3 linked regions of the Homo sapiens genome follow. The protein of the gene in region 1 interacts with the protein of each later gene in a pairwise test. Each region holds a gene or a part of one and is shown in the gene's direction. Other genes may lie near its edges.

Region 1 (10,463 bases):
CAGAGAGAGAGCCCGTGCTAAGGCCAGTCTGGCTGCCCAGCGGGCATCCTGTCAGCATGGGGCTAGCCTCTGCTATTGGCTCACAAGTCTGGGCTGTGCATCGTTCAGATTTCATCACATCACCTTGCCCTGGGTAGACATGGCGCAAGCTGACACGGCAGAACCCCCCACTTACATTGAGTCAGAGCAGTGATTTAGAAATCTCTGTATCCGTGCCTGGGTACGTGTGCACATGTCTCTGTGTGGCATATGGAGATTCTGTCAAAAGTGAGAACCTGTGAGCACGTCTAGTTAGCCAATAGGCATTTGATAAGACCTAGGGCAATGGTTTACTGCACACTCACTTCCATGAAGCTAATTATAATTATCATTCTTCACCTCTGCATGCTGCAAACCAAGTTGGATGAACAGAAAACAGACCTTGAACTCTTAAGCAGAAAATCTATTTTGAAATGGAAACTATTGTTGCTTTTCTGGTAATATTAAAACCTCACTGTATCATGATGTGTTATCACATGAATTTGGATATACCAGGTGTTAAATCATGTTCCCAAAAAGTCGGCTGCATTCATAAATACAAATAAGGCACAGGCTAGCCGTTTATCCACAATGAAATATTGGTCTTGCTCTCCTTGCCTCTAAACAAACATATACAAAGACATTACTATAACATTCTATATATTTGTCTCTTTGTGTTCTGTTTTTAGGTCTCTCTAGCTGTGAAACAGTCTAGATAGTGATCTGAGTGACTTAGATTTGAAGATATTTATTAAGAGTTGAGGAGTTGAGTAGTGAGGAAGTAAAGAACCTAAAGGAAAGGACACTAATTCTTCCTTAAAGACTTTTGAAACAGAGAAATGCAACCAACAAACCCAACATAAAATTTAGAGCATCTGGACAAGAAAGGCCTTTAAAAACCCTCCTTTTATTTTGCAGATGAAGAAACTGAGGACCAGAACGGAGGTCATTTGCCTACAGCCACGCAGCAAAGTAGAGCTACCATTAGGACTAGACCTTAAATTTCTTGTGTCATATAAAAGGATTTGAGTTTTTAAAAAAAAAATCCTACTTCTTAGATGAACAACCAGCTTCTTCTTACAATTTTCCTCAGGATTAGATGTGAATTCATTTGGTATTACAAATTTTCCCTGTATCATTCATCACTAAAAGACCTATATCTTTTAACATTCAAGGTCTTAAAACTGCAAGACTCCCTGGTTTGAAATAAACTGCTATGAGTCTTAATGAAACCATTAAAGTAATGAATAGGACTAGGGTAGCAAAGTGACAAGTTAAGAGTTAAATGTGGTGAGAACCTGGCAGCTCCAACAAGATGTATGCGGTAGGAGGGAGGCCCAGTCAGTGGCAGAGAGGTTAGTAATGTAAACTATATACAACTTGGTATTTGTAAGGGGGGAGTGCTTTGATAGAGATGCAAATGCTTTTTGCACAGAGAGGGATTTTTAGAGAGCAGACTTTGGAACAGTAGAACTAAGAAAACATATAAAGCCAAAGCAGAAATTCCCCCTATGTTTGCTTTCAGTTATTCTGAGTAGGAGTGTATATAACAGCAGAGCATAGAAAAAAGCAACACACCTAAGAGCCGTTACACAGTAGGGTACAAAACAGCATTGAACCCGTGAGACTGGGAGAAAACAAGAGCCAGGATCTCCTCTTCCTCACTCCACTCTTCTTTGAAATCAACGTTGAGTCATACTGTATCGGAAAGGATTTACCATAGAAATCAGAACTGTCTTGCGGTGTTAGCATAGAAGGGCTTTAGATAGGAAAGTTTTCAACTTTATTCTCAACATGGCAGATTTTAGGTTCCAGGGAGAAAATACATTTTCTTTCATTAACAAACATTAGCATTTCTTGAATGGGCTTAGCTTTCTAGTCCCTAAATTGGCATAAGAAAAGAAATTTTTTTCAGGTTGAACATGGCAAATTCAGGGCTACAGAAAAACTGTTTAGAAAGCTATGAGCACCTGGCCAGAGAGACTGTGATGGGAGTGGGTTTACAATGCATCATTCATTACTGCAGAGGCACTACGTGACAAAAATCACTAGATCCCATCAATGTGCAGCCAAGACCTGTAATCACCTTTGCTCTTATTTAATAATATGTGATGTGTACATTCTCTCTCTCTCTCTCTCTCTCTCTCTCATTTGATAGACTATGGAATTGGCCAACTGCACAGTTTCTTAACTGTTGCTGCTCACAATGAATGGCTCTTTAGTGGGTGGATTTCTGAATCATAAACATTCACGTAGTGGTACTTTTTCATCTAGCCTATGTGCTACAGCAGTGTCTTGCCTGTTCCTTTCTCAACATATTTTTCCCTCTTACCTTCCTGTACAGTATCTATTTCAGTTCATCCTGTTAGCCAGATCAGATTCAGCATGTCCAGAATGGCAAACAATTTATTGTCATTCAATCCTTAAATCCTACTCAACACTCTGATTTTATTCAGGTCCTACTGTCCACTTACTGCAGGTCTCCCACATTAGATCCCAGAGTCCATTTGAATAAAAGATTCTACAGAGCAGGAAGAAACCTTCTAAGTTCATCCTGTCAGTTCCCTTACTTGTAGGCAAGACAGTGCATCATTATTTCAGACTGAAATAATGCCCACAGCTTCTTTTAATCATCCAACCAAGCATCTCAATTTATCAGTCTTGCAGAAATCGAATCAATATTGAAATACAGCTTTTCAACCTAAACACCATGTACCCTTCTGCTCCCCAGACAGGATCCCCTTTGAACATAATTCTCATTATTGTTTCTGAGTCATTTATATTATGACCTAGATTCCTCCCAGATTAGCTTTCAACCTTCTGGGCATGTCCCTGAGGTTCCTAGTGACATCCCTAGAATCCTGTCTTTGGAATCTCACCTGTTTATCTCCTGTAACTTTGAGACCTTGTATAACTTCCTTTAAATTATTGCTTCCTGGAATTTTCAATATGTTTTGAATCTAGTTTCCTTTGGGAAATCAATTAGTCTAAACTGCATTCAGCATGTATATTATTGTTCTTACAGTACAAAGGACTTGCAGGGCTCCACATATTCTTTAGCCGATCAATGGGACATAAATCTATTTCTCATAAATTTGTCAAAAGACTCCTCCCAGTCCCAAGTTCCTACATCTACATACCCTCCAAGCCAAATGAACAATGTGTCCTTTTTTATTTGGGTGTCTACATGAAAGCTGCCAGTTCCTTTCCAATGCTGAGACTATGAATCTATAAAGATACAGCAAAGGTAGAGGTGGCAGGTTGCATGAGCCTTTGAGTGCAAGTAAATAAAGGAAACATACATTTTGCTTTTGAATGCCCCAATAAGTAAGGGCACATTGCCCACCTTACCCTCAAGGACTTGAAGATGTAGAAGATACGGATGAAAAGAAATATTTTATAAAATTGTGTAGTTATAGAAAGAAATACAGACCATAATGGCTCAAGGTCCTTCAAGATCACCTTGTTCACATCACATATCCTTCAGTTTCACATAGATAGTGAAACTGAGGCCCAAAGAAAGCAAGTGATTTGACAAAAGTGACATAAATATTTGAGTCTGAGAGTTTCCATAATATTTATTTGCATTCTCTTATGCTGCATTTATTTAACACCAAAACAACTAGTTAAAAAGTGAAATTTTTGTCAGACTGGTTCTTTGATGTGATATGCCAAAAAGGTTATTTGTAACCAAATTAAATCTTTTCAAGTAATGAGCAGATGTAAATTCAGCTTATCAGGTTTGCATGAGGATATAGCCTCAAAAGTCAACTGAGTCTGGTCATATTATTAGCCACTGAGTCCTTTATGAACTGCATCCTTGTTTTTCCTGTTATTGAGCTTTGGGCCCATTTCAGTGTCATGTTTGCTTGCTTATGGAAACGTAATCAAGCACCATCCTCTCTCACTTGTTCATTTCTATTACTCATTCAAGCTATCCATCACATACAGTAGTGTGAGTAATTGATCTATTTTGAGAAGGCCTGAAATCTGATGGATCTCAAATATATACTTTATTCATGCTAGTGTTTTGCTACGTCCTAATGCCTCCAGGATGTTTCCTGGATTTGTGTTTAGGTTTCTTCATGTACACCTTTTTGACTCTTCAGTCTTCTAGGTGGTGCAATACAGCAGTCTGCTATTTGTACAGTATTTTCCCCATGGTCATCATTATCAGTTCTAGGCTTGGTAAAATCCTTCAGGGAATGACCAACCACCTCTTCCTGACTGTAGTACAATGGAAATGCAAGCATATGCTTTCTAGACATTCAACTTAGCTTAAATATGGTATAAGAATATCACTTTCCTTTAAGAAAGTCAGTTTATTGTGTAAGGTAGTGATAGAGAAAAGAAGTCCAAGCAGATTCTGCTTGGTAAGTCTCATCAATATGGAGGTGACTTAGGATAGTAATAGGTATAATTACAGATGATTTTTGAAATAATTCAGGACTTGTCTTCTATAGTTCCTTGATCCCCAGTATTACTCCCACGTGTACAAAAGTTTGATTCTGGAGCCTCCATTCCATTTAAAAAGAATCACTTCCTTAGTAAGTTAAAGCAGCCAGTAAGGTGAAGAGAACTGCAAGATGATTAGTCTTGGTTTCCTTATACTCTTGGGAAGCCTTTTTTTTTCCTACTACACTGCAGACAGCTTAATTCCTACCTTCTGTGTGTTTGCTGTATCTCTGCCTTTATTGCATTCTCCTTGCTTGCCTGTATTCACTGAATCAAGTAATGTCCTTTCTTATCTGTTTATTTCTGCTTATCACAAATTCACACTGAAAAGATAATTTTGATTGGATATATATATATATATATATATATATATATATATGAGCAACTTCTCATGGGAGACTTTTGAGGCTTTCTCTTTTCCTTCAGCATTGCTTCAGAAAATAGCCTTTGCAGTTAATATTAGGTTCCATTTGTATTAGAATTCTGATGCCCAAGGCTTGGATGTCTCTGCTAGCAAATACCTGAATGAGCTAGCTGCTCCTGTGAAACTAGGCATTTGATGGAATACAAAAAGAATCAACTATCTGATATTTGTTCCCAAACTTCTTTATAGTCTGGAGGGGATGATGAGATTTGCCTATAAAGAAGTAAGTGAGGTTAATTACAGAATAAAGGTGTAGCATGAAGATTACTGTAAAGTAATTGAAGGTAGTGGTGGTGATAGGGCCTGAGCTTTGTTGGTTTCTTGCAAAGTACTTATGCCTGTGTGTTCTCATTTACTGTTTTTATGCCTTCTCTCCTAGGATTTTCTCATGTGCCCTGAAATCCATGTAACTACAAGGGCTCCTCTTTATCACCATAAGTGCCACCCTGACTTAAAACCACTCAGAGCTAAAAAATCAAGGCAAAATGGATGCTGCGGTGACAGATGATTTTCAACAAATTCTGCCTATTGAACAGCTGCGCTCTACTCATGCTAGCAATGACTACGTGGAACGGCCTCCAGCCCCCTGTAAACAGGCCCTCTCCAGCCCTTCCCTTATTGTGCAAACCCACAAGTCTGATTGGTCTCTGGCTACCATGCCTACTTCTCTCCCCCGCAGTCTCAGCCAGTGCCATCAACTGCAGCCCTTGCCTCAGCATCTGAGCCAATCTAGCATTGCCAGCTCAATGTCCCATAGCACCACTGCCTCTGATCAAAGGCTCTTGGCCAGCATTACACCCTCACCTTCAGGCCAATCCATCATCCGAACCCAACCTGGAGCAGGGGTCCACCCAAAGGCTGATGGTGCTCTGAAGGGAGAAGCTGAGCAATCTGCAGGGCACCCTAGTGAGCACCTCTTCATCTGTGAGGAATGTGGGCGCTGCAAGTGCGTCCCCTGCACAGCAGCTCGCCCTCTCCCCTCCTGCTGGCTGTGCAACCAGCGCTGCCTTTGCTCTGCTGAGAGCCTCCTCGATTATGGCACTTGTCTCTGCTGTGTCAAGGGCCTCTTCTACCACTGCTCCACTGATGATGAAGACAACTGTGCTGATGAGCCCTGCTCTTGTGGGCCTAGTTCTTGCTTTGTCCGCTGGGCAGCCATGAGCCTCATCTCCCTCTTCCTACCCTGCCTGTGCTGCTACCTGCCTACCCGTGGATGCCTCCATCTGTGCCAACAGGGCTATGATAGCCTCCGGCGACCAGGCTGCCGCTGCAAGAGGCACACCAACACTGTGTGCAGAAAGATCTCTTCTGGTAGTGCACCCTTCCCCAAGGCCCAGGAAAAGTCTGTATGACCTTCCAACAAGGTGGATCCAGAGCTTTTCTCCTTCGAGTCCCCAACAGCAAAGCATAGGCCTCATCTTTGGAGAGGGGGAGGAGTGATAAACTAGCCAAAGTTAGGGCCTCTCTTTTGTTCCTGCAGTGTCAGGGGAATGACCAAGTACATCCTGGTGCAGGATGCCTTGTTCTTTCTCACAGTATCTATCCCACTCCTCTTCAGTCTTTACACCCTGCCAGCTCAGCCTTTATGGTTGTCATGGCAAATTCAGGTGATATATGGGTATGAGGTTTGAACACTGAGGACTGACAGGGCCAGCAACGTGGAGGTTTAGGGGCTCCCCAATGTAATACCTCTCGATGCAGGCTCTGATCGTCACTCTGTTTTCTGCTGTGCCTTTGGAAGCTTTCTTCTAAGATGGTTTTCACAGGTACATGTGGAACAGCGTTCAACCTTCCAGGGAATACGACCCCTTCTCCCTGTTACTGCCCTTCTCTTCTTTATTCCTCTCTCCTCTTTCATTATTCTGTTCTGTATTCCTTTCCCCTTCATTCTCACCCTGTCTGCTTTTACTTTTTCTCTTTCTTCCTCCCTTTCTCCTTCTCCCCTCCTTCTTTTTCAGACTGATCCTTTCTCTGCCTGTATTTCTATCTCATTTGATCTATATTTGTCTCTCTCTACCTGTCCCTTTTTCTCTAACATGTCCAAAAGTGCTGTTTTTCCATAGATGTTTCCTTAGATGCCAAACTTTGCTATGCTATACTATTTACTAATTTTTATTAAGGGAAATGGATTACTGTAATGAACTGATCACTAGCAATAGTGTGTATCCCGATGTGTGTGTGTGCTCACAACCACTCTCACCTGTTCGTGAGCGCATGAGGCGAAGTTATCTTATATTTCCAGGTTTAACTAGTTGGAGTTTTTCTCCCTTTCTCAATAATCAACTTATAGTGCTGACAGATTCCACTAGCATGCTGAGTAGGATAGTAAATCAGGATGCTCATAACTTTGTATGTCTGACCCAAGTGCCAAAGGCAGACGTGCTTTATAGCTAAATGAACAAAGCAAAGGATACAGAGGTATGTTCTCTCTTAGAAGCTAACTTCCCTGAGACTGCATGGCTCAGGCGTTAATAATGGACATAAAAAGTCATAAAACGTTAGAGCTGGAAGGAATCTTAACTATTAATCTAGTTCAATGCCCTTATTTTACAGATGGGAAAACTGAGGCCTGGAGGTAGGAAGGGACTTGCCCCCAAGGCCGCACACTGAGTTAACAGCAGAATTGAGACTGGAATATAGGCCTTCTGACTCCTAGTTCAGTATTCTTACCCCTGTACCACATTGAGTCATGGGACTTTTTCCTAGGGCTCTATTAACAGTGACAGAAAGCCATTCCCATTCAATTACTTTTCAGGAACCATGCCTAGTTAGTGTGGTGGTCTTTCTCCAGTGCATGGTGGGTAGCTAATTAACTATCAGGTGTTGAGGCTGCCCCCAGTGGACATCACCTTTGGCTCTGTCACCTTGTAGAAGCTCAAGTGTGGAAAAGAAAAGCTTAAAGAAGCCCTAACCAAGCTGTATCTTCGCCATTGCATCTACTCTTTGCTGCACACACTGTGCTTGCTCCTGGCTTTGTCTGCAATGGCAGCTGCCTGAGAACTTAAATTTCAGCAACAGTGAAAAACTGAGATGAAAGATGTATAATGTAGAGAACTGACTTCTCTCTTAAAAAGTACAGAGAGCCTGTGCTGTGAACCCCCTTCAATGGGAAAAAGCTGCAGTGGTGATGGCAGGCTCCTAAAGACTGCTGCTAAAAGACACAAGAATTATACAGTTTCCCTCTATAAGTGAATCCAAAATTCACTGACGAATTCAGAGATTGAGGGCACTTGCTTGAAATCAAGGTGCTCCAACTTAGTTTAAGACCTCCAGACTCTAACTTTATAGATCATCTCTTCTAGAGTGTGCATGGATGTGTGTTGCAGGGTGGAGAAGTGGGGAGAAGTGTATAGTAGTACACGGGGGGAAGAGGGGACCTCCATGTCCCTTTGTTGGATACATATTACAGAAATATGTGCCACTCACTTTTTGTTGGTTCTGAATCTTCCTGAAGTGTACTGACATTTGGGCTGCACAGAGCCCCACACCTTCACTTACACCTCCTCTTCTAGAATTGCTTTGCTCTATTTTTGTATATATAAATATGTTATGATGATTATTAATAATGTTAATGATATTGCTGCAAATGGTGCCATATATAAGGTTAGGCTTCTTGGAACATTTATAAACCCAAACCAATACCTGTAACCTCTTATGTTGCTTTCAGATCCTTCAATTTTAAGTAACTTTTTAATCTTACAAGTCTGCTTGATTGTACTTTACACTTATCTACCCTGAAAAGCTCTGCCCAGTTCTCTGGGTCAAGCTGGATGGTGATGAGTAGCAACACACACTTCTCTGCTTCTGCCTGAAATGTGCTTAGAGCTCAGTTATCTAAGGATTCTCTGACACTAGTGCATTGTTCCTGGAGCTAAATTATTCTATGGATGTTTGCTTATTAGTTTCAGGCCCCAAAATAACACGAGCCCCTCCTCCTTGATAGCTCCTTGATATCCCAATCTTGCAGTCCTAACTCAGGCAAATTGTGCACTGCCAGAGGGGCCCTGGGTTCTGCCATATACCCAGAGGAGCCTTTCTCAGTGTGTTTCTAAATGGCCTTACACTTGGTAGAAGAAATTGAAGGGTTACTCAAATACAGTTGCAATCTGCAATCTGCTGTTGAGTCAGGGCTTTCACTTGTGTCCAAGTTGGCCTGATATGGACTGCATCTGCTTTACGTATAGATGGGTCCTGTTGGGATATGCGCATGGACGTGTGAGTGAGTGTGCGTATGTATCCCTTCTGTGATTATATATATTCACACATCTCTATATATTTTAATGTATTGCACATGTATATTTAAAATATATACGAAAGAACTCTAAATCCTGCAGGGAGGCTCTGTTTTCATTATTTTTCTACTTTGTGTCATGTCCTGTATAAACAGGAATATTTAGAGGGTGTTTCCTGCTTAGCATTTTTTTGCAGTTAAATCATCTGTTAGCCCCTAACTCTACTGCCTTCCACATATTGGTTCCTTGATACATTTCATATGATATCAGCCAAGAGTTTTCCTGTGGTTCCAGCCCATCTTCCCTAATCACAATAGCAATAATAAATATAGTGAATACTTACATAGTGCTTACTATATGCTAAGCACTATTTTTAGCATGTTATTTATATTAGCTCATTCATTCCTCACAATTCTACAACATAGGTATCATTCCAACCTCTATTTTACAGATGAGAAAACTGAAGCACAGAGAAGTTAAGTGACTTGCCAAAAGGTAACAATTGTAAATGGTAGAGCTAAGATTTGAACCCAGGGTGTCTGACTCCCAGGTCCATGCTCCAGAGTCAGATATAGAAGGCTGGAGCACAGTGTAAACCATTCTGGAGTAACAAGCCTCAAATGGTGAATAATTCTTTCCCTAACTCTGGTCCACCTGCAACCTAGGAGTTAAAATAAGTATCTTGCTATGTTAAGAGTAAAGCAATAGTTACAGGCATCATATATTAGCTGTCTTGCTCCCAAAATGGTGACATTACAAACTTTTCCACTATTCCCTTTGAAAACATGCTTGCAGCCAGTTACCATTTCTTAGCTTATGATGTAGAGCTATTAAGGGAGTATTTTCACTTGTGCCAAAGAGGGTAAGCGTTTATTAGCCTTATCTTTATTGGCCAGGGAAAACTAATTCAATTTTTTTTTGAACAAAGTATAACTGAGACTATTTTTGGAGCTTAAGATTTGTTAGAGCTGTTAACATTCAACCTTATTGATTATATTGAGAGCGCTCTTCTGATTCAAATGTAAGCAAACCACTGATGACCACTGGTCCGTATAACACATTTTACCAACAGCTCCTTCACACTGAATCCTTTAACTTGGCCAAAGGACCCTTAAAGAACATCTAGTCCAATGTCAACATTTTATAGCTGGAGAAAGGGATGCACAGAGAGGGAAAATAACCTGTCCAAAGTCACACAGTTCTGAAAATTGAGTGGAATTATGACTTTATACCAGAGTTCCTAATTTCCAGGTATCTTAGCCTCAGTTTCTTAAAAAATAGAGTTTGAAGCAAAAGCTATGTACGATCCAGGGTAGTATGAGTAAGGAAAGGGT
Region 2 (10,463 bases), on another chromosome or scaffold:
CCCTCCTGACACAGCACATCAGCTGTTGCATGGGCAGGGGTGAGTCCTGGCCAAGGCCTTGCTTGTGCCCACCCCACCCCCACCCAAAGGTTGGGCTGGAGAACTTCTTGGGGAGCTGCCTCCTCCATCACATTGAGGCAGTGAACCAGGGATCTTTGGAGGGGAGAGATTCATGTGGGAAATGCTGCAATATTTTCTCTGGAAGGATAAGCTATCCAGGCAGCAATGGTGCTGGGGAGGGCTGGGATAGGGGTGCAGAGGAAATGTGTCACTGGAGAGAGGCACAGTGTTTGTAGATCATCACTCAGCCTTTCTGTGCCCACGCTGGGTGGGGCCCTGGAGGCCCAGAGGCTAATGTGTCTGGTTCTCATGCACCACCTCTTAGAGGAAACAAACATTTTGATATTCACAACTAGATAGATTACTGAAAAGAAAGAAATGCAGAGTGGGGCCCACTGTCTGTAGAAAAAGCTCCTGCCCTGGCCAGGAGGAAGCTGGTTAAACCATGCAAAGACTCCTGTTGTCTGCCTGGGGAAAGAAAAGACCTCAAGTGTTTCCTGGGGTTTTCTTCTGCAGGTTGTTCGGTTCAGGGACAGGGTATGGAGTACAACCGGGAGCAGTCAAGGTCTGTGTAATCCCAAGAAGTCTCAGACTCTGAAACTCTAGGCTATGATGAAGAACAATGAATTGTCAGCAGCCTGTATATTAGGATGGGGGGAAAGGACCACATGCGAATATTTTAAAGCTTCAAACTGACAATATCATGTCCATTACTTTTGTTTGCAGCTCCATACACTTGTAATTTATCACAGTAAAATTTTATACTTCTTTATATGGTGGTTTGATTAATGCCTATTTTCCCCCACTCCTTAATGCTCTATGTCTTTCTTCTATTTTATTGCCAGCACCTAACACTGTCCTTGACACATAGCAGCTGCTCTCAATGTTGAGTTAAAGAATGAGTCAGAAAATAACTCAGTTAGAATCTCAGTAATTTCCTTGCAGTACATATGTGCTGCCAGAAGGTGGCGAAAATACTCAGAGCAGAGAATTTCAAGCTTCAGAGGCAATGGATGCTAAGAATTACATAATGCAACACATTTGGTTGCTTCATCAAATGTGGAGTTAAGTTTATTTCCTCGGCTAACACTTGATTAAGATAAATCTCAAGGTGTGGCAGAAACGGTCAGACAGATTTGCATTCAAATCCAGCCTCTGCTGCAGACAGCCAGGAATCTTAGGCAAATGCCTTTGACCTTTCTAGGCTTCCACTTCCTCATCCACAAAATGGAAAGTACAATGTCAGATTTTGTTATGAAAATTAAGTGAGAGAACACTAATACACATACACACACACATATACATATACATATGAGTGTGTATATACATTTTTAATTTTTCAACCTCAAAGTTCTTTGTATCTGTCATATTATTTATAGATTATTACTGCCATCGAATATTACTTCCATGTCAAAATTTAATACAAGAATTGAAACAAAATACATTGAGTTAAAAAGAAATTGAACAAGAGTACGCAAAAAAAGAAAAATACTGTGCTTTTCAGGCCCTGTTGTCCTCCAGGAGAAGTAAATCTGAGTTCAAGACCCTGAATTCTTCCTAAGAAATTGAAGGGAATGCAGCTTCATTTCTCTGTGATGATCCATCTAGAGTTGAATTATTTTGTCAAAATAAGGAGCATGTCCCTAGTTAGAAAAACTCAAAGCACTCAGAACATGATAGGATAAATTTCCTAAAGGAAACAACCCCTCCAGAAATTTGAAGGCTCTTGAGCACACACTCAGTTCTAAAGTAAACATGTTGGTTGTAAAAGTCAGTATATAGACCTTCTGCAAGACACATGTAACTTTTATAGCTCAAAATTTACAATTGATTTTTCTCTCAAGGTTTTTTAGACCTAAATTAATTTTTAATATACTGACCCAAGGTGCCCAGTTATTTTTAGATAAAACTGTCAACTATCCCTTAACCTAAAAGTAGGCTGTGAGACATAAGATAGTTAAAGCATTACAGTGCCAGAAACCTACACGAATGGAGGTTTCGTGCCCACTGGTCTCATGCCAACTGCACATAGAAATGCTGGCGGGTAAACAGCACTAAGGGGACTTGGGAACCTGTCCAGGGGCTCGCTCTGCTCCACTCCAAGTCAGTTCACAGGTGCCAGCCCCACCCAGGCCCCTAATCACAAGGCAGATGAACACATCAGCCAAAGTACCCTCTAGAAAGGGACCAGGACCACTCATGCATAAGGCACAGGAGGAGCAAACTTGCCTATTTAGAAGTTTTCAGATTCAACATTGTTTAGTTCAAAACTCAGCGCCTGGCAGCCTGTCCTCAGGTACCAAGCACCTAAGTAGCATTGGGGGGTGAGGGGCTGGGGTCATGCTGAGCTGTTCAAAGAAGAAGGAAAGTCCTTCCCTCTACAACTCCCTCCTTGAAACTAACAGCTCATTTACTGAGCTTTAGTAATACTTTGCCCTCTCCTCTGTTCTAGTTCTTATCAAGTAACATGACCAAGTCAATTTTGAGTAAAGTCCCCCCATTAACTGTGCAGTCTCGGAACACAGAGACCTCGAGGTATTGCTCTCTGAGTCCATAGCACCCAAGACGAGGCCCGACATGAATAAGAACGCAGTGAATTCTGACGAATAATGAAAAATGAAGGATAAGAGAAGTGAAAGATATGTTTAGGGAATGAGGGAACATAAGAGAACATTGTCCTTTGTAACCAGGAAAAGATATGTTTGATGAAAAAAAGAAATGGGTCTCAAATGTTTATTTCGTGAGATAATAAAATGATTGTTGTCATTTTAAGCCACTAGCTTTTGGGGTGATTTGTTATATAGGAATAGTCTCTGGAACAGATCATTGTGCCTAGCAATGGGTACTACCAAAATATAAGTAATGGGTACTTTCCTTCTCCTGGAATGCTTGGCTGTTCCCTGGGCCCCATGTATAGAATCCTTCTGTGTTAAAGCATATCTTATGTCTGGAGGGAAATTTTCTACCTTCCAATGTGCTTCTAGGTGCAGGAGGAGTGGGCAGCAGAGCTCTGCAGGACCCAGGTCAGGATGCACAGTGAGAAAGACGGACCGAGGGCTCCTCGAGGTAGATAGCCCAGAGTGGGCAAAGAGGCCATCTGTATGAAGGCTGCTCACCTGGTCCACTTAGCAGGTGCAAAACTTACGAAGGAAAAGGGATATCAATGAGCAACCTCAGTAATCTTCTATAGACCTTGTAGTGCTTGCCTATAGAGCCCAGAACCCAGATTTATTCATCCAGAAATACATACGTAACTTCTCTGCTTTAAAATAGCACATGGTTTGTTTTTGGTTGTATTTGGGGCTTTGCAGTTCTTCCTTGTTAATTATCAGAACTACCTGCTGTTTGTGACTGGCCTAGGCTTATGTCCAAGGGGACTGAGGCCACCACCTACTGATTCCCCATGGCCTTCCCTCCTTGTGGTCTATGCTTCCCTTTCCTCCTTGTGTCCATTCTCTGCCTCCCACACACCCCTGGTGACAGTTGGCTCTGTGAAGAAACCTCTTTATGTCTCTCAAAAATAAGCCCAGTCATGTTCTATTTTTAATGAGTTTTAAATGTCTGTTCTGCAAAAGAAAAGTCCCTGCAAAAAGAAGTTAGAAACTGGAACCTCACCCAGGGAGGGGATAAGTGTGGGCCCAGGACGAGGGCTGGTGGCAGGAGAAACCAGGTCTGGGCACCCTCCCTCTGGCCCTACTGGGCAGCGATGAAGCCAGATTCTCATATCTAGAGGAACATTGAAGTTCGTGTAGCACCACCTGTGTGGGGAGAGAAACTGCTGTCTGCCTCAGTCCTGTTCCTGGGGGGAGTGAGCTGAGATGCTGCAACACTAGCATCAGGTGGTGCTTGTTGACCGATTCCAAGCCCCATCAACTGAAAGCCACATGTCACCAGCCTCACCCACAGGAAACAATGAGATGCCTGTACCTGAGCACCTGCTGTGAGAAAGCCTCCCCTAATGCCTGCCCTTGCCCTTGACAGTCAGGCCAAACTGCTCTCCAATGGGTGAGGCTCCGACAACGCCCAGGAGCACCTGTGATGCCGTCATTAGGAACCTACCTCGTCGCCCCGATTCCATCCCCTCCCGACACCTGACTGCGCGTGTTCTCCTTTGCAGTTCTTTCCTTATGGAGACGCCTCCAAGTTTGCCCAGCATGCCTTCCGAACCTTCGACAAGAATGGGGACGGCACCATTGACTTCCGAGAGTTCATCTGCGCTCTGTCCATCACCTCCAGGGGCAGCTTTGAGCAGAAGCTGAACTGGGCCTTCAATATGTATGACCTGGATGGTGATGGCAAGATCACCCGAGTGGAGATGCTGGAGATCATCGAGGTGAGGCCCGGGGTGTGGTTGGCGGGTGGTGGGCACAGAAGGAGACCCCACGGCAGCCTCCTAGGTGCAGGCCTTAGTGGCTTCTTCTCTCTCTGCTCGAGCCCTGCCAGCTGCACACCACGCCTGGACTTCTCCTGCTTCTGTCCCCGCTGCAGCACAGTGCTGGGGAGGTCCCAGAACCAAGCCATGGGGCCCGTACTGTCGTGACGGTGGCATTGTCATCTGCCATTCACTCACTACTGGATCTCCCACGAACCTGTCTTACTGTGCACACAGGATGTCATGGGCTGTTTCTCTGGCACTTGGTGTATCTCTGCTCTGCCTCACTCCAGCTGCGCCTAGTGGGGACCCGAGGCTGTCAGGGGCTCCCGGGACATCCTTCCAGGTTCTGGTCATTCCACAGCAAGCAGGCTTTGCCCATTGTGTTTGTGAGTAACCCAGGATTCCTCTGCCACGCCACCCACTGCGTACTGCATTCCCAATGTGAAGGTCTTCTTGGTTTTCTTCTAATGCCCGGTTCCACTTCAGGGCCTTCCACTTCCTCTCTCTCTGCCCAGCATGCCCTCCCCTGGCCTCTGGGGGCTCCTCCCTCACTTTGCTCCCATCTCTGGTCTTATCCCATCTCCCAGAGAGGTCTTCCTTCCTGCATACCTTCCCAAATATGCCCACTCCACCCTCACACCAAAGCAATCTAACCCTTACCAAGAGGGGTTTTGTCCCAACATCTGTCCCTGCCCCAGATTAACTTGTTGAGTGGAATATATGGCAGAATGCAAGCTCTCTGAGGAGGCTCTGCCCTCACGGCTGCATGCCCAGAACCCAGACCCAGCCTGGAGCCTGGCAGGCATGCAATAGCAGATGCATGGTTCGGTAGCTTTCCTTTGATTGACTGTCTTAGCATGGGTTCCCACCCCTGCACCAGCCACTCTGACCAAGGAGAGAAAGGTATCACTTGCTGAAGGTAGAGCCAGGTGCTCCATCCTGGAGCTGGGGGGATGCCCCATCCAGACACCAAGAGCTGAGATCAGGCAGGGTGGATCCCCACAAGAAAATGGGATGATTGCAAGAAACAGAAGCCAAAGCCCCAAGTTCCCCTCAGGACTCTCACTCTCCTCCCAGCCTCAGAGAGAAGTCACCCATCAACTCCCTGCCTGGGAAGCTGGCCTCGTTCACTTGCACACCCTCTCATTCCACATCTTCAGTCTCTTCTTCTCCGTTGGCTTCTCCCCTTCTATCTTCAATGCCCACTCCCTTTCAAATATACCCAGCAAACTAACATCTTAGTTCTTTACTTGTGTTCCCTTCATTCAATTGAATATATATTTTTTCCAGCAGGTTATCAGAAAAGATACAGCACAATAATTCTGAACATGTGGCTTGATTTTCTCATCTTTCTCACTCTTTAATCTTTTGTCCATCTTCCACACTTAACTTGGCTCCCTCCAAGGTCTCTCTATAAGCTCCCTACAGAGTAGGTTTTTCCAAGTTTTTTCTCCTCTTTGACTTCTTGTCATTTCCCCTCATTGGCCACCAAAACCCTTCCTCTCCAAAACTTTTCTCTCTAATCCTTGTCAATGCCCTTCAGCCAAAGTCCCCAAGGACATACCCACACTTACACAAGTTGACTTTATTACTGCTTGCAGTGAGGGAATCTTGGGGCAATTCAGCAGGAGGGTGTTAGAAAGGACTTCTAGGATCTGGACTTTGGGAGGGTGATTTGGGGAGGGTTCGGAGAAGCAGAGGTTTACTGTGGATTGGTTACTGTCAGGGAGTGGGGACACTTCTATGATTAGATACCTAGGAGGAGGGCACACAGACCAATGCAATGCTCTTAACGGGTGAAGAAGCAGTGGTCACTCACCATAGCAGGAAGCAGGGATGCTTGGTGTTTTGTGTCTGTGTTCAGACTTAATGACAGAGTGGTCTTGTTTTTGCCTTGCTCCATCATGGTCACTGGCATTTTGTGACATTGGTTATGTTTGGTGTGAGACCTGACTGTGAGGGCTGGGCCAGCTCCCGGCAGCACCAAGGCCCGGTGGGCAGTCCGGGCCATTTCCTGGCTGTCAGCGGCTGCTTTTCTTTCTCTTAGTTCTTCCACGTTTCTCCCCATCACTTCTAGCTCTTCCTTTCTTCTATTCAGAGCTTTTATGGATTGATTTCTCACCTGATTATGGGTCACATTTTCCTGCTTCGTGACACGTGTAATAATTTTTATTGGTTCCTGGACATTATGAATGTTGCATTAGAGTGTCTGTATTTTGTTGTCTTCATTTATAGAGTGCTGAGATTAGTTTTGACAGGCAGGTAAGTTATATGTAAATTAGCGTGATCTTTTCGAGGCAGTTTTATAATTTTAAGCTTTTAGAGCAGATGGAGAGTAGGTTTTCTGTAGTAAGTTAGCCCAGTGCCCAATTTGTGACCATTTTGGGGTTCTTACTGATTTTCTCATACATTTAGTGAGGTTTCTCTACTCTGGCTGGTGGGAACCAGCCCCATGTGTTGTGATACTTATTCAGGTATTTAAGTGAAAGAGGACATATCAGAGTATAACTAGACAGAGAATATAAATAGAAAAGAGGTTTCCAGAGGACTGAGGTCCTGGGGCAACCTGATGTTTAGAGGTGAGGAACATGAGGCACAATCAGTAAAGGAGATGGAGAAAGAATTGCCAGAAAGGTCAAAGTAAAAAAGGAAAAGTGAGAAGTCCTGGAAGGGAAACACACTGTTTTGTGGGGAAGGAATGGAATGTGCAATCATGTCAAATGCTATTGATAAAAGAAGTAAAAGGAGAAAAGTAATCACTGACAATTGGAATTGGAAACCTGGAGGCCATAGGTGAACCAGCTGAGAATAGTTTCAGAGGAGTTGGTGGCAAAATCCTAAATAGAGCAGCCCAGGAGAATGGGAGAGGAAGAAGTAAAGACAGTGACTGCAGAAAACTCTTGCCAGAAGCTTTGCTTTAAAAAGAAGAAGAATGGACAACAGGCTTCCTGAATGCCAAGGTATTTAGCAAGCTCTTTGCATTAAGAACTAGAATGCTCTGCAAGCCTGTGTGAGCACCAAGAGTTGTTCAGCTTATTGTTCAGAAACTTCTTTGTGAACTTTTATCCTCTGTGTGCAGCCTAGTTTCCAGATAAACATTGAGGAGTCCTCCTAGGCAGATTTCTGAGGCTTTCTTTCTGCCTGGCTCCCTCTCTGGTCCTCTGCCCCGAAATTTCTGGCTATCTTCACCTTCCTCCTCCAATTGTTGTCTCCTCCAGTTGGTGAGTCAGCCCTGCTTGGGACCCTTCTCCTTGTGCTGCGGTCCAGGAAGGACTCTGGGCTGAGATCATAGGGTTCATCTACTTTGTTTCCCACCTCTTAGGAATTACAGTCTTGCACTGTCAGTTGTAAAGTCTGAAAACAGCTATTTCTTTTATTTTTATCCAGTTTTCTAGTTTACAGTGAAAGGCAAGTCAGTACAGGTCCATCAGGGCTGGGGACCACAGGGGCAGTTTCACACGGAGTTCCGAGTCTGGCATGCCCGGCCTTTGTGATATGTAAAAGTCTGCATCTGAAACGGCCCTTCTTGGTTGTCGTGTTCACAGTCCCAATTGTAGGGCTGTGTCATGGATACGATTAATGAGATCCTGCCATTTTCAGAGTTGCTTCCTGAGGTCCAGGAGGGACTTCTTGTGTTTACATTTCTTATTACCCTGACTTTATTAATAGTGCACTTGTTTTGCTGCCTTCATACCCACTGCCTCATGTAAGGGCTTTTGATTTCGCCTTTTAAAGGCCAGGGTGAGAGTGGCAGCTTACATGTGTACGGGCCATTTGTCTCTTTTTAAATTCCAGACAGTACACATTCCGTGCTTTTCCTTTGTGCACCACTCTGGCTACTAGACTAATCAGGACCTTGTCTACCAATTATCCACAAAATGAAATTTCGGAAAGTCTGCCTCTTTTAGAGACAACTTTCTTAAAGTGTTCCATGATACATCAATACCATCTAGCTACAAAAGTAAATACGCACAAAATATTTTATCTCAGTGGACATTTTAACTTGTTAAATAAAGCACTTTCTAGTTAGTGGTTTGCTCTGATTGGCATTTCTAAAAACAACTTTATGAGTTATAACTTACAGACCATAAATTCACCCATGTTAAGTGTACAAATTAAATGATTTTTACTAAGTGTACAGAGATATGCAACCATCACCATAATGTAAATTTAAAACATTTTTATTCCCCCAGTTAGATCCCTCATGCCCAAAGGCCCGCTCCCACCCCAGGCTCAGGCAACCAACACATCACTGTGTCTCCATGGATTTGGCTCCCTTTCTGGGCATTTGACACAAATGGAATCACATAACATGTGGCCTTACATGTCTGGCTTCTTTATATTTTTGAGATTTATCCATGCTGTAGCATATTCATTCTCTTTTGTTGCTAAAATAGTATATATTTTTTTACCGTATAGCTGTATCCTATTTGTTTACAGTTGATGAGCACTTGTGTCATTTCCACATTTTGGCTATTAATAATACTGCTATGAATGTTCTCATGCAAGTCTTTGTATAGATGGGCATTTATTTTTAAAGCACTTTTCTAAGAAAGGAAATAATTTATACTTTGGAAATTTCATATCAAGAATTAATTGTATACAGTTAGTTGGTCTGGATAATTGAAATCTTCTCACTCTATTCTTTAACTTATAAACAGAGTCCCTGCTCCACAACTCTCCCTAAACTAACTTCTTGCAGAGTTCAATTTTAATGGTACAACTGGCTTGGTTGTCTTACTAGATTCTAAGTTTCTAATCAGTTGGCCCCACAATTCTTCTTTTCCTAAATCCCCAAGGCTAGTGCTTTTTGACTGTTTCCTGCACCTAGATGCAGAATGTTTAAAACTGAGCCCATCATGTTCCTCCCTGAACCTATTCCTAATCCATTATTTCTAATCTCACCATTGAGCCACCCTTTCTAACCACTTCCTCCAGCCAAAAACCTGGAAGCCACCCCAAATTCTTCTATATCCAGTTGGTCACAAGGCTCACCCATATTTGATTATGTCATCTCTTATTCAATAGCATTTAAGGACTTATTTGAAATAAAGTTAAATTCTTTATCTTATCCTAGGAAAACTCGGTGATCTGCTTCTCATTTCCCTCTCTCCAGCTTCATCTTTCAACACTTCACCTGGCCCTCCCTCCTACTGCCCCTTGCCCCACATCCCACGCTCCAGCAGCTAAAGCTTTTTCATTTGATCAGTATTTATTGAGACCTGTGATGTGCCAGGCATCATACCAAGCCCTGGACTTACAGGAGCACGTGCTTCCTAGCTCCATAGAACATACTCTTTAGTGGGGAAGACAAAGCAGTTATTTTAATAAAGGTGAGATGTATTCTGTTGGGGGAAATGGTATGGGTTGTCACAGAAACTTGCAGCACAAGGAGTGAAACTCCTCTGGGGAAAGGGAAGCTGAGGCTTGGAGGATGGGTGGGATCCCGTCAGGTGAAAGGGAGGCAAGAAGAGCTCTCTGTCCTCCTGGGTTTCTGGTAATATCACCTACAATGCTTTTTTCCCCAAGGCTATCTACAAAATGGTAGGCACTGTGATCATGATGAAAATGAATGAGGATGGCCTGACGCCTGAGCAGCGAGTAGACAAGATTTTCAGCAAGATGGATAAGAACAAAGATGACCAGATTACACTGGATGAATTCAAAGAAGCTGCAAAGAGCGACCCTTCCATTGTATTACTTCTGCAGTGCGACATCCAGAAATGAGCTGATGTCAATGCTATGGACTGCACAAAAGTCTCAATGTTCCATTCAGTCTGCAGCTATTCACACACACACACACACACACACACACACACACACACACACACACAAATATTGCTTGGACTACCTATAAATGGACTTGCTTCTTGTGTTTGAAACACTCGTGTGCATGAGAATGTCATTTGCTAATGAATTTTAAAAGCATATATAAAACAAAACAAACAACCTGCCACAATGTGATATGTGTAATATCATTTCATAAAAATCCCTCTTCCTCCAAAGCCTGGGCAGAAATGTGCTGCAA
Region 3 (10,463 bases), on another chromosome or scaffold:
AGGGGGCTAGGCTTAGGCCAGGCTGCCAGTGCCCCTCTGAGCCTGCCCCATCTCTTGCAGGAAAACCATCACTGCCCTTGCCTTCTCCCCTGATGGCAAGTACTTGGTCACTGGAGAGGTGAGTGAGGAAGAGGGCTGGCAGTACTGTAAAGAGGGCAGGTGTCCTGGCCTCCGCAGAGAGCTGCGGTCCTAGGCCTGCTGTCACTTTGGCTTCTGAAACAGACACCAAATCCTGGTTTTCGCTATACCTTAAAATAGTGGTTCTCAAGCTTTAGTGTACATCAGAATCACTTGGAGGGCTTGTGAAAGCACACATCACTAGCCTGGTCCTCAGAGTTTCTGATTCTGTAGGTCTGGGATGGGAGTCTGAAATGTGCATTTGTAACAAGTTCCCAGAGAGTGCTGATCCTGCTGGTGAAGGAAGCGTGCTTTGGAAACCACTGCCTTAACTATTCCTTACCCCCGGGGGCCCCCTGCTGGGCTCAGGAGGAACGCTTCTGTCCTGGCGGCGTAGTCTTACTAGGGGCAGAAATAGACCTGAGTGGTAGTGGCTCTCAATGCCGGCTGCCCATCAGAACCATTCAGGGAGCTTTGAACAACCTGAAGTACAGACGGCCACCCAGAGATGCTGACTAAAATCCGGGGCCACTTTCTTCCTGGTAATCACTGTTGCCCTCAGATCTTTATCATATTTCCTCTATACCCTGCCCTGACTTTTGGCTGGGGAAGTGATGGTATCTAGTAGCTGAGGAGGCGAGGGCCCCGCTCTGGAAGACGAAGTGGGGCTGTATGCCTGTGGAGAAGTCAAGAACTCACTTCCAGTTCTTGCCTCCCTGCAGAGTGGGCACATGCCTGCCGTGCGGGTTTGGGACGTGGCAGAGCACAGCCAGGTGGCCGAGCTGCAGGAGCACAAGTATGGTGTGGCTTGTGTGGCCTTCTCTCCTAGCGCCAAGTACATTGTCTCTGTGGGCTACCAGCATGACATGATCGTCAACGTGTGGGCCTGGAAGGTGAGTGGCTGGGTGGGGTGGCCTGGCAGCCTCACAGGGGTCAAGTGTCAGCTGGGGAGGCAAGAGACTGCTGACCTGCACTGCTCCATTCCACCCCACTGAACCATTCTCATTCTAGAAAGTTATTTGAAGCAGAAAAGAGCAACTGTGTGGCCAAGCATGTTGGTTGAAGGGGCTAGCTTTATGCCTTCAAAGACTTCTGCAGGAAACGAATCTTTTCAGCTCCTCTAGAAAGGGATTATTTCCCTACCCCTCTTTTTCTGGCCAGTAAATTCTGGAAAGAAACACTTTGTCAAGTACAAATTCTAATTCTCCTCCATTCTCTGAGTCACTGTCTTCTTAGCTCCAAGAGACAGAGCCTTGATTCTTCCTTTGGCATCCCCTCCAGAAAAACATTGTGGTGGCCTCCAACAAGGTGTCCAGTCGGGTGACAGCAGTGTCCTTCTCTGAGGATTGCAGCTACTTTGTCACTGCAGGCAACCGACACATCAAATTCTGGTATCTCGATGACAGCAAGACCTCAAAGGTGAGGTGCTGAAGCTGGGAGTAGCCACCAAGGCCCCTGGCAGGGCCTGCCCAGCCCAACCCAGGAGACTCTGCCCCACTTGGGCCTCTCTCTGCATTCCCAGCAGTCATGCAGAAGTTTTGGATGAGCCAGATGCTGTCTGGGCTGAGGAGTAGGCCCAAAGAGCAAGGAGGTGCTGGAGGCGTCCCCTGTACTCTCCTAGGGCCCAGTTTCCAGGGGCAGGCTCTGGGGTGGATGGGGGTGTAACAGTGGTGTGCCTCCACAGGTGAATGCCACTGTGCCCTTGCTGGGCCGCTCAGGGCTGCTGGGAGAGCTACGGAACAACCTATTCACTGATGTGGCCTGTGGCAGAGGAAAAAAGGCGGACAGTACCTTCTGCATCACGTCCTCAGGGCTGCTGTGCGAGTTCAGTGATCGAAGGCTTTTGGACAAGTGGGTGGAGCTGAGGGTAAGTACCTCCGTCCCCAGGGGTAGGGTCTGCTCATGTCTCAGCTCAGGGGAGAACTAGTGCCCAGGGCTTCAGACTAGGGGCTGGTCCCTTGTGCATACGGGAGATCCCAGGAGAACGAAGCTTGGGGGAGCTAGAGCTTGGCCCATTTCCAGCCCTTGGTGATCTGTATAACTGCCTCCTCTCTGCTCTTTCTGTCTCTTTCCCCTGCTTTCCTCTTCCGCTCAGAACATAGACAGCTTCACAGTAAGTGGTGCCTGCACCTTCCTCTCTTTCTCATGCTATTTCTTTCTCTTCACTGGGCTTTTCCTACTGGATCCTCTGGTGCCTAGAAGAATCCTCGGTTCCTAATCCCTGGCTGGACAGGGCTGAGGGGCTCAGAACAGGGCAGCTGGGCGGCTTTTCCCTTGCCCCTGCCTTGGCCGGTCCCTCCTCTTGGCAGGTGGCTGTTGATGGGTGGGGAGGAGAGAAGACTGAGTGGGCAGGTGGCCTTGCTGAGCTGAGCCACTCTGCCCACAGACCACAGTGGCCCACTGCATCTCTGTGAGCCAAGACTACATCTTCTGTGGCTGTGCTGATGGCACCGTGCGCCTTTTCAACCCCTCTAACCTGCACTTCCTTAGCACCTTGCCCCGACCCCATGCTCTGGGGACAGACATTGCTAGCGTCACCGAGGCCAGGTGAGCTATGTGGGCCCCCCTTCCTCCATTTGTAGCCTTACCCCTGCCCAGTCTTTCTTGTCAGTGCCTCAGGGAGCAGGTGAAGAGTGTATTGATGCCCCAAAGATTATTGGGAACACCTCTTTAGACAGAAGAATTTGGGTTTATTGGTACTTGTTGCAACCAAGGAGACCCCACCCCATGGAGAACTGTGGAGAGTCTCAGTAAGTGGGTGTTAGGAGGGACATATGGGATTTGGGTTTGCGTTGGGTGATTTTAGGAATCGTTCAAGGGATTGAAGTATTCTGGTTGGATGCTGTCCGGAACTAGGGGCAATTCTACAGTGGAACATCTTGTTAATTTATCTAAGAGGTGAAGGAAAGGTATGGGGCTAAAGCTGTATTTGGTCAAGAAGCCGCCAGCAGTCATGTAGATGGGAAAGGCGGTGTTTGGTCATTGTCATGGTTCGTTGTGGTTTGTATGGTGATCTTGTTTTTATCTGTGCACAGAGTAGTCTTGTTTTTGTTTTGCCCCATCACAGCCATAGAAGTACCTTGTCTAACGTTGGTGTTCTGTGAAGCTGTGTTCATCCGAACACCATGGCCCAGCAGCTAGTGCTGGGTCAGGTTCCTGCTGATGGCTAGTAGGGGCTCCTTTCTTCTCTCAAGCAACTACTTCCAAACCTGCAGGTCCAGGGAGGGCTCCTCACACACTGCTCCTTCCATTGTGGATTGGCTTCTCTTTTCATTCCCTTCAGTCTGACCAGTGTGCCCTGTCCTCTCCCTACAGTCGCCTCTTCTCTGGAGTGGCGAATGCCAGGTATCCAGACACCATTGCCTTGACCTTTGATCCTACTAATCAGTGGCTGTCTTGTGTGTACAACGATCATAGCATTTATGTTTGGGATGTGAGGGACCCCAAGAAAGTGGGCAAGGTGTACTCGGCTCTGTATCATTCTTCCTGCGTCTGGAGTGTGGAGGTATGTGGGCTGGCTGGCTGGCTGGAGACTGGCCAGGTTGGCTGGGATACCATTTTGAGGACAGAAAATAGGGATCCCCAAGTATAATCTTAGATTCCTGCTGCCTCCCTGTTTCTCCAGTGACTTCCCTGGGATAGATCCTGGGGACTGAGTTTGAATGTTACAGGCTTCCCCAGTGTGCCCCATCCTTAGTTTTGCCTCGGTCATCTTGGACAAGTTATTGAATTTGACCAAGCCTCAGTTTCCTCACCTGTAAAATGGTGTACTTGATTCACCTAATTGTTCTAAGAATAAAATGAAATAATGTAAGTGGGAGACATAGAAGAGTGCCTGATATATAGTGGGTGCTTCCCCTTGGTCATGTTGAAGGGTATATACCAGTTATGTATGGCCTGTGACAGGCACTGGGCTAAGTCCTGGCCACCATTCCCTTTTTCGTCCCATTCCCTTCCATCTCCTTGGGTAGGCAGAGGACTGCTCCCGAATGGAGGTCTGATTGTGTTCCCTCGGCCTCTTCAGGTCTACCCCGAGGTGAAGGATAGTAACCAGGCCTGCCTGCCCCCCAGTTCCTTTATTACCTGCTCCTCAGACAACACCATCCGCCTGTGGAACACAGAGAGCTCCGGGGTGCATGGCTCCACCCTCCACCGAAACATCCTCAGCAGTGTGAGCCCTGAGGCTGTGGGGCCCCGCTTCACCCTCAGTGCCCCCATCCCCACAGCTATTGCACCTTGTTACTGGGAACTGGTCCCTAGGCCTTGGCCTTCCAGCCTTCATTTGGCTGTGCTCTGTGGTCCAAGGGTTTGTTTTGCTCAGCTTTCTTGCCCCTTGCAGCTGTACTGGTCAGGCCTGCCTCATCCACCTTTTCTAACCTGTTCCACTAGGACCTCATTAAAATCATCTATGTGGATGGGAACACCCAGGCCCTGCTGGACACAGAGCTGCCTGGAGGAGACAAAGCTGATGCATCCCTGTTGGATCCCCGCGTGGGCATCCGCTCGGTGTGTGTCAGCCCCAATGGACAGCATCTAGCATCAGGGGACCGTATGGGCACACTTAGGTAATGCCAGGCCCTGGGTGGGTACTGACTGCCTCTCATGGTGCAGAGTTGGGTATTTAGAACTTTAGGGAGGGTTTGGCTCAAAAAGATTGGGCAACAAGATACTTATTTACAAGGCAAAGATAATAACTTCACAATGAGTAAACCTAGCAGAAATCATCTTCACCAAGTGATCAAGGTTAACATCCTCATATCAACATCATTAAGCCCATGATAGGATGTACTAAGAAGGATGTGACAATGTTTCTGTGGTATTCTTACCAAAAATGCATAAACTCAATATAGGCGTGAGAAAACATCCGACAAACTCACATTGAGGTACATACCACAGAGTAACTGATCAATACTCTTCAAAAACGTCAAGATCATGAAAAGTAAGGAAAGACCAGAGAACTGTTACAGACCACAGAAGTCTAAGGAGAAGTAACTAAATGCAATTTGGATTCTGGATAGGATCTAGAGTCAAGAAAAAGGACATAGTAGGAAAACTGGTGAAATTTGAATAAGGTCTCTAATTAATAGTATTATACCAACATAAATTTCCTAGTTTTGATAATTGCACTATCGTTATGTAAGATGTTCACATTAGGGAAAGCTGGGTAAGGGAAATATAGACGCTCTCTGTTCTTTCAGCAACTTTTCTCTAAGCCTAAAAGTTCAAAAAAAGGAAAAAGGAGGAGAAAATGTAGCAGAGGAGGGGGCGTGAGTCCTTCCTGCGGCCTGGCCATGGCCTCTTCCCACCTCTCCTCATCTTTGCAGGGTGCACGAACTTCAGTCCCTGAGTGAGATGCTGAAGGTGGAGGCCCATGACTCTGAGATTCTGTGCCTGGAGTATTCTAAGCCAGACACAGGTTAGGAGAATGCCCGGAATGGCACAGGGCTCCTCCAGTCCTGCCGGTGCCACTTATATCTGTCCCGGCTCTTGGACGTGGGGTCGGTAATCTTTGGATCATTGGTGTCTTTGCTGGTTTAGAGGAAGACAGCTCTGTCCTTGCTCCATGGTTCACATGGCTTGGGGATATGGGGCTCAGTTCCCTTGGGGCTCTTTGCCAGGCCCAGATAAGGGCTGTTCAGGGCACTCATGGGCTGATGGAGTTCTTTCATCCCCAGGTCTGAAACTGCTAGCATCGGCGAGCCGGGACCGGCTGATCCATGTGCTGGATGCCGGGCGGGAGTACAGCCTACAGCAGACGCTGGACGAACACTCATCCTCCATCACTGCTGTTAAGTTTGCAGGTGCGGGCAGGGTGAATGAGACACATCCTGCCACTCTCACCCCTGCTGCCATCTGCCTCCCACCTCCATGAGAAGGGTCTGCCCATTGTGGGGGAGTGTTGGACAGCAGCTGGGAGGCCTGGAGCTGGTTGGGAAGATAGGTGGAACAGAGACTCTCAGTGCTGGGACTTGAGCCAACCAGGTTGGACTGAGGATAAGGAGACAGGAAAACCTGGGTTTCCAGGTTTAATTTAGTTGGTTTTCCCTGGCATGTAGAGTAGCTTGATGGGGGATCTCATGGAGGGAAGGTGGGAGGCAGGCTGCTCCCATGTGGTGAGAACAGTGGGAACAGCTGGGCTTCCCTCCTTCATAGCCAGTGATGGGCAAGTCCGCATGATCAGCTGTGGAGCAGACAAGAGCATCTACTTCCGCACTGCGCAGAAGGTGAGGGCGCTGGGCTTTCCTGAGAGGGGCGGGACAGGGCGGGGTCTGCCATTCCCTGCCTAAGGTTACAAGAGGTGAAGGGAGGCGCAAGTAGGGCTCTTGGGGCCTGGTGAGGCATTTGGGTGTGGGCCTGCCCACATGCTCCACCCCTGCAGTCTGGAGATGGAGTGCAGTTCACACGGACACACCACGTGGTGCGGAAGACGACCCTCTATGACATGGATGTGGAGCCCAGCTGGAAGTACACGGCTATCGGCTGCCAGGACCGAAATATTCGGTGGGCGTCCCCTCCTCAGACTCTGCCCACATTCCTTCATCTCCCTACGGGGTCAGCTCTGTGCAGCTAAGTTCCCACATCTGTCGTTCTGTACAGGACTTTGTACCCCCTTGAGCCTACAGTACTTTGCTTCACCCAAGAGGTGGTAGCCTGTTTGCTGCTGGGGGTAGCTCCCAGAGAGTGTAGACTGGGAGTGAAAGCTGGCATTTCCATCCCCCAGGCGTGTTCCACCTTCACCGCCTCCTCATGAGAAAGAGACTATGTTTCTTACAGGATATTTAACATCAGCAGTGGAAAGCAGAAGAAGCTGTTTAAAGGGTCACAGGGTGAGGACGGCACACTCATTAAGGTAAGGACCCAGAGGGGGTACTGGACAGGGGCTCGGGGACAGAGTGGTGCTGGGTGGGAGGGACTGGTACTTCCCATGTCCTCCAGCTGCACACCCTGCTACTCCTCAGGTGCAGACAGACCCCTCAGGGATCTACATTGCCACCAGCTGTTCTGACAAGAATCTCTCCATTTTTGACTTCTCCTCAGGCGAGTGCGTGGCCACCATGTTTGGCCACTCAGGTGAGTGTAGCCTGAATCCCCGAGTAGAAGCTGATACCTGCGTAAACCTGAGTGAGTTCCACCCCTGGAACTTCACTCTTCTATTAGTTTCTTGGGACCCGCAGAGCTACCTATCCCTACCCTGCAGCCAACCCCCGTGTCCACTGTTGGGATGGAGAGGACTTGGTTGGGAATTTAAGGTGGCTTATAGACCGTATTCTTTGTTCTTCACAGAGATTGTCACTGGCATGAAATTTAGTAATGATTGTAAACATCTCATCTCTGTGTCTGGGGACAGGTGAGCAGAAGCCAGCTTCCCTGAGAGGCAGATTCTTACTCTGCCACAGCACCCTGCCCTCCCCTCTCTCCATTTCAGTGATGTCTCTGGGAAGTGGGGTTAACAGGGATAGCTTTTGGCTGTGCTTGACCTGAAGTGGAGGGTGGCTCTGGTCTCCTTGCCATCCATGGATAAGGGGAACGAATGGCGCTAGCCATTCTACCTGCCCCTCCTTCAGCCAACTGTGTGGCTTTACCCCAGCTGCATATTTGTGTGGCGCCTGAGCTCTGAGATGACCATCAGCATGAGGCAGCGTCTGGCCGAGTTGCGCCAGCGTCAGCGGGGCGGCAAGCAGCAAGGACCATCCTCTCCCCAAAGGGCTTCTGGACCCAACCGGTGAGAACAGAATGTGGGCAAGTGATGGGTGGGTGTGCAGATGGCTTGCTGGGACCTCACTGCACTTCCTCCATGCTTTGGGCCTGCCATTCAGCAACTCTGTCTCCCAAGACCTTACCTCTCACACAAGGATCCATGATGTCAGCCTCTTCCCCCTGTTGAGTCTCCTCTCCCCCTATTGAGTCTCATCTTCCCCTCATTGAGTCTCCTCTTCCTTCTTCCCCCACTGAGCCTCCTCTCCCCCTATTGAGTCTCCTCTCCCCATGCCCTTCCTTGTCTCGGACTCAGGCACCAGGCCCCATCAATGCTGTCTCCTGGACCGGCTCTCTCATCAGACAGTGACAAGGAGGGAGAAGATGAGGGGACTGAAGAAGAACTTCCAGCACTGCCCGTCCTTGCCAAGAGTACCAAGAAGGCACTGGGTCTGTGGCAGTTGGGTGTGGGGGCAGACAGGCCCTAGTTGGTATAATGGCTAGATATGGTTTTTCTGAGACTGTGGGGTGAGAGCAGTGTGAGCTGAGGAAACTGAGGCATCACTGTGGCCACACAGGGTATGGGCTGATGGGGCCAGGGCTCCAGGGTTGGGTGGCGGGGGGGGGGCAGGAGACACTTCCTCTGACTGCCTGTTTCTGTCTAGCCTCGGTCCCCAGCCCAGCTTTGCCCCGAAGCCTGTCCCACTGGGAGATGAGTCGGGTGAGTCGCCATTGTTAAAATGTTCTTCCAAGGTTAGAGGAGGCAAAGGGAGCTGTGAGAACAGGGCTCTCTGGGCCTGGTAGGGTACTGGGGCATGGGGTCTGCCCACATGCTGCACTCGTGTGTCCAAGGAAGGCCTTGTCGGGGAAGTTGAAGCAGCTGGGCTGGTCCTGGGTGCGGGGGTGAAGAAAGCCCAGGTATTTCCTTCCTGTGGACCAGTTGGGGTGGATGGAGCACAGGGTTAGTCAGCACTGGGGAGGTGGGGCACTTGTTCAGCTGCCTGGTGCCTGGAAGTAAATATCATCAGAGAAGAGCTCAAGGTGGAGAGGACAAAGGACCCCTAAGCCAGATAGTTAGAACTAAAATGCAGGAAATCAAGGATCCAAAGAGCGGAGATCTGGAGAAACAGTTCTAAAGATCCCGGTTAGGAGGTAAGCGGAGAACTTCCAGAATAGTTAGAGGGAAAAGGCCATGAGGGGACCCATAACTCAGCGACTGCCCTGGGGTGGCCAAAGGGGGATCAAGGTGTTCAGAGCAAGTTCCCAAGCACCAGTACCTTCCGTTGTCAGCAACAGTTTCACAGAGTGATGATGCTGTGGTGTCTCTGGAGCACCCTGACCGGGCCAGGGGTCTCAGGCCTGGGCTATAGGTTTGTCCTTGGTGCTGTGAGGGGACTTTGGGGCCCCCAGCTATTGGAGTGATTGGGGTAGAGAGGCAAAAGGAGTGGTTGGGGTAGACAGGCAGAAGTGGCCTTTGCCCTGGGCTGGATTTCTTGGGGGACTCTTGGTAGTAAGTGGTTGCTGCTGGGGCTGTCCTCAGAGTAGGAGACTTTTAGAGACCCCCAGCTCTGAGGCATCCATGATACCAGGTGAAGGCTGAGACTAGGGGTTCCTGTGCCAGAGGATGCGGAATGCAGCTAAGAGCATGAACTCTGGAGCCAGACTAATCTGCAGGCCACTTACTGTCTGTGGGACGCAGACTGCTCACTTAAGCCCCCTGTGCTTCAGTCTCCTCATCTGTAAAACAAGGATTATACTAGTGCCCATTTCAAAAGGTTGCTGTGAGGATGAAGTAAGCTAGTATGTGTAGTGTGCCAGGCACATAGTAAGGGATATGTGGATATTTGTTGATCTTACTGTGTGGTTGTTGTTACTCCTCCCCCACCCCCTACCTCCCACCAGGCACAGGAGTCCGTGGGGTTCCTGGACCCAGCTCCTGCAGCCAACCCAGGACCCAGAAGAAGAGGGCGCTGGGTTCAGCCAGGTGTGGAACTGAGCGTTAGATCCATGCTGGATCTGCGGCAGCTGGAAACACTGGCCCCAAGCCTGCAGGACCCTAGCCAGGACTCGCTGGCCATCATCCCATCTGGTCCCAGGAAGCATGGGCAGGAGGCCCTTGAGACTTCACTCACTAGCCAGGTGAGCCTGCTTTCTCCCAGCTCTCTAGAGAGTTCCAAGGGGCCTTAGGCAGCCTTTGCCACCAGCTGGGACCTGAGCACTGGTCCAGCTATGCTTGCTCTGCCCCTGTGGCACATGGGTAACCTGAACTGCAAAGCCAGGATGGGGGTGGCTGGGCTGTATGGTTTGGTCATCAGGATAGGCAGGGGAGGGGTTGGGGTAGAGAGGCAAAAGTGGCCTTTGCCCTGGGCTGGGTTTCTTGGAGGACTCTTGGTATTAAGTGGTAGCTGGAGGTTGGCAGCCCAGAGTGCTAATATAGTTCATCCAGAAGCTCACATCAGCAACTGGAGCCCAGCCTGGCTTCTCGATGTCTGTCCTTCAGCTTCCCCTTGAATGAGTGCACACCGCATCCTTACTCACCTCCACCTCTTCTCCAAGGGGAGGGTTGGCCCCCAGGATACTCAGGGCTTACCCCCCAGCTACCACTGCCTCATCTGTCACCTCTGCTCTGTTAACATCCCTTTGTGTGTTCC

Evidence for each region.
Region 2: the proteins of SPRY3 (region 1) and VSNL1 interact in binary tests that used the Homo sapiens proteins (3 or more experiments, as listed by UniProt).
Region 3: the proteins of SPRY3 (region 1) and MAPKBP1 interact in binary tests that used the Homo sapiens proteins (3 or more experiments, as listed by UniProt).

The regions. Positions count from the first base shown.
Region 1 is NC_000023.11:155,768,490-155,778,952, forward strand, and holds part of SPRY3 (protein sprouty homolog 3), read left to right. Parts: intron 1-936; exon of another isoform or gene 937-1,373; intron 1,374-5,276; 5' UTR 5,277-5,382; coding exon 5,383-6,249; 3' UTR 6,250-10,463. UniProt on the Homo sapiens protein: Inhibits neurite branching, arbor length and neurite complexity. Inhibits EGF-mediated p42/44 ERK signaling. Negatively regulates the MAPK cascade, resulting in a reduction of extracellular matrix protein accumulation.
Region 2 is NC_000002.12:17,645,233-17,655,695, forward strand, and holds part of VSNL1 (visinin-like protein 1), read left to right. Parts: exon of another isoform or gene 1-4,177; coding exon 4,178-4,393; intron 4,394-4,548; coding exon of another isoform or gene 4,549-4,778; intron 4,779-9,964; coding exon 9,965-10,162; 3' UTR 10,163-10,463.
Region 3 is NC_000015.10:41,811,118-41,821,580, forward strand, and holds part of MAPKBP1 (mitogen-activated protein kinase-binding protein 1), read left to right. Parts: intron 1-60; coding exon 61-118; intron 119-839; coding exon 840-1,010; intron 1,011-1,398; coding exon 1,399-1,536; intron 1,537-1,801; coding exon 1,802-1,984; intron 1,985-2,212; coding exon of another isoform or gene 2,213-2,230; intron 2,231-2,503; coding exon 2,504-2,664; intron 2,665-3,432; coding exon 3,433-3,622; intron 3,623-4,141; coding exon 4,142-4,288; intron 4,289-4,506; coding exon 4,507-4,682; intron 4,683-5,441; coding exon 5,442-5,533; intron 5,534-5,792; coding exon 5,793-5,918; intron 5,919-6,270; coding exon 6,271-6,341; intron 6,342-6,496; coding exon 6,497-6,618; intron 6,619-6,891; coding exon 6,892-6,967; intron 6,968-7,076; coding exon 7,077-7,188; intron 7,189-7,401; coding exon 7,402-7,465; intron 7,466-7,705; coding exon 7,706-7,840; intron 7,841-8,128; coding exon 8,129-8,262; intron 8,263-8,477; coding exon 8,478-8,533; intron 8,534-9,714; coding exon 9,715-9,951; and 1 more. UniProt on the Homo sapiens protein: Negative regulator of NOD2 function. It down-regulates NOD2-induced processes such as activation of NF-kappa-B signaling, IL8 secretion and antibacterial response. Involved in JNK signaling pathway.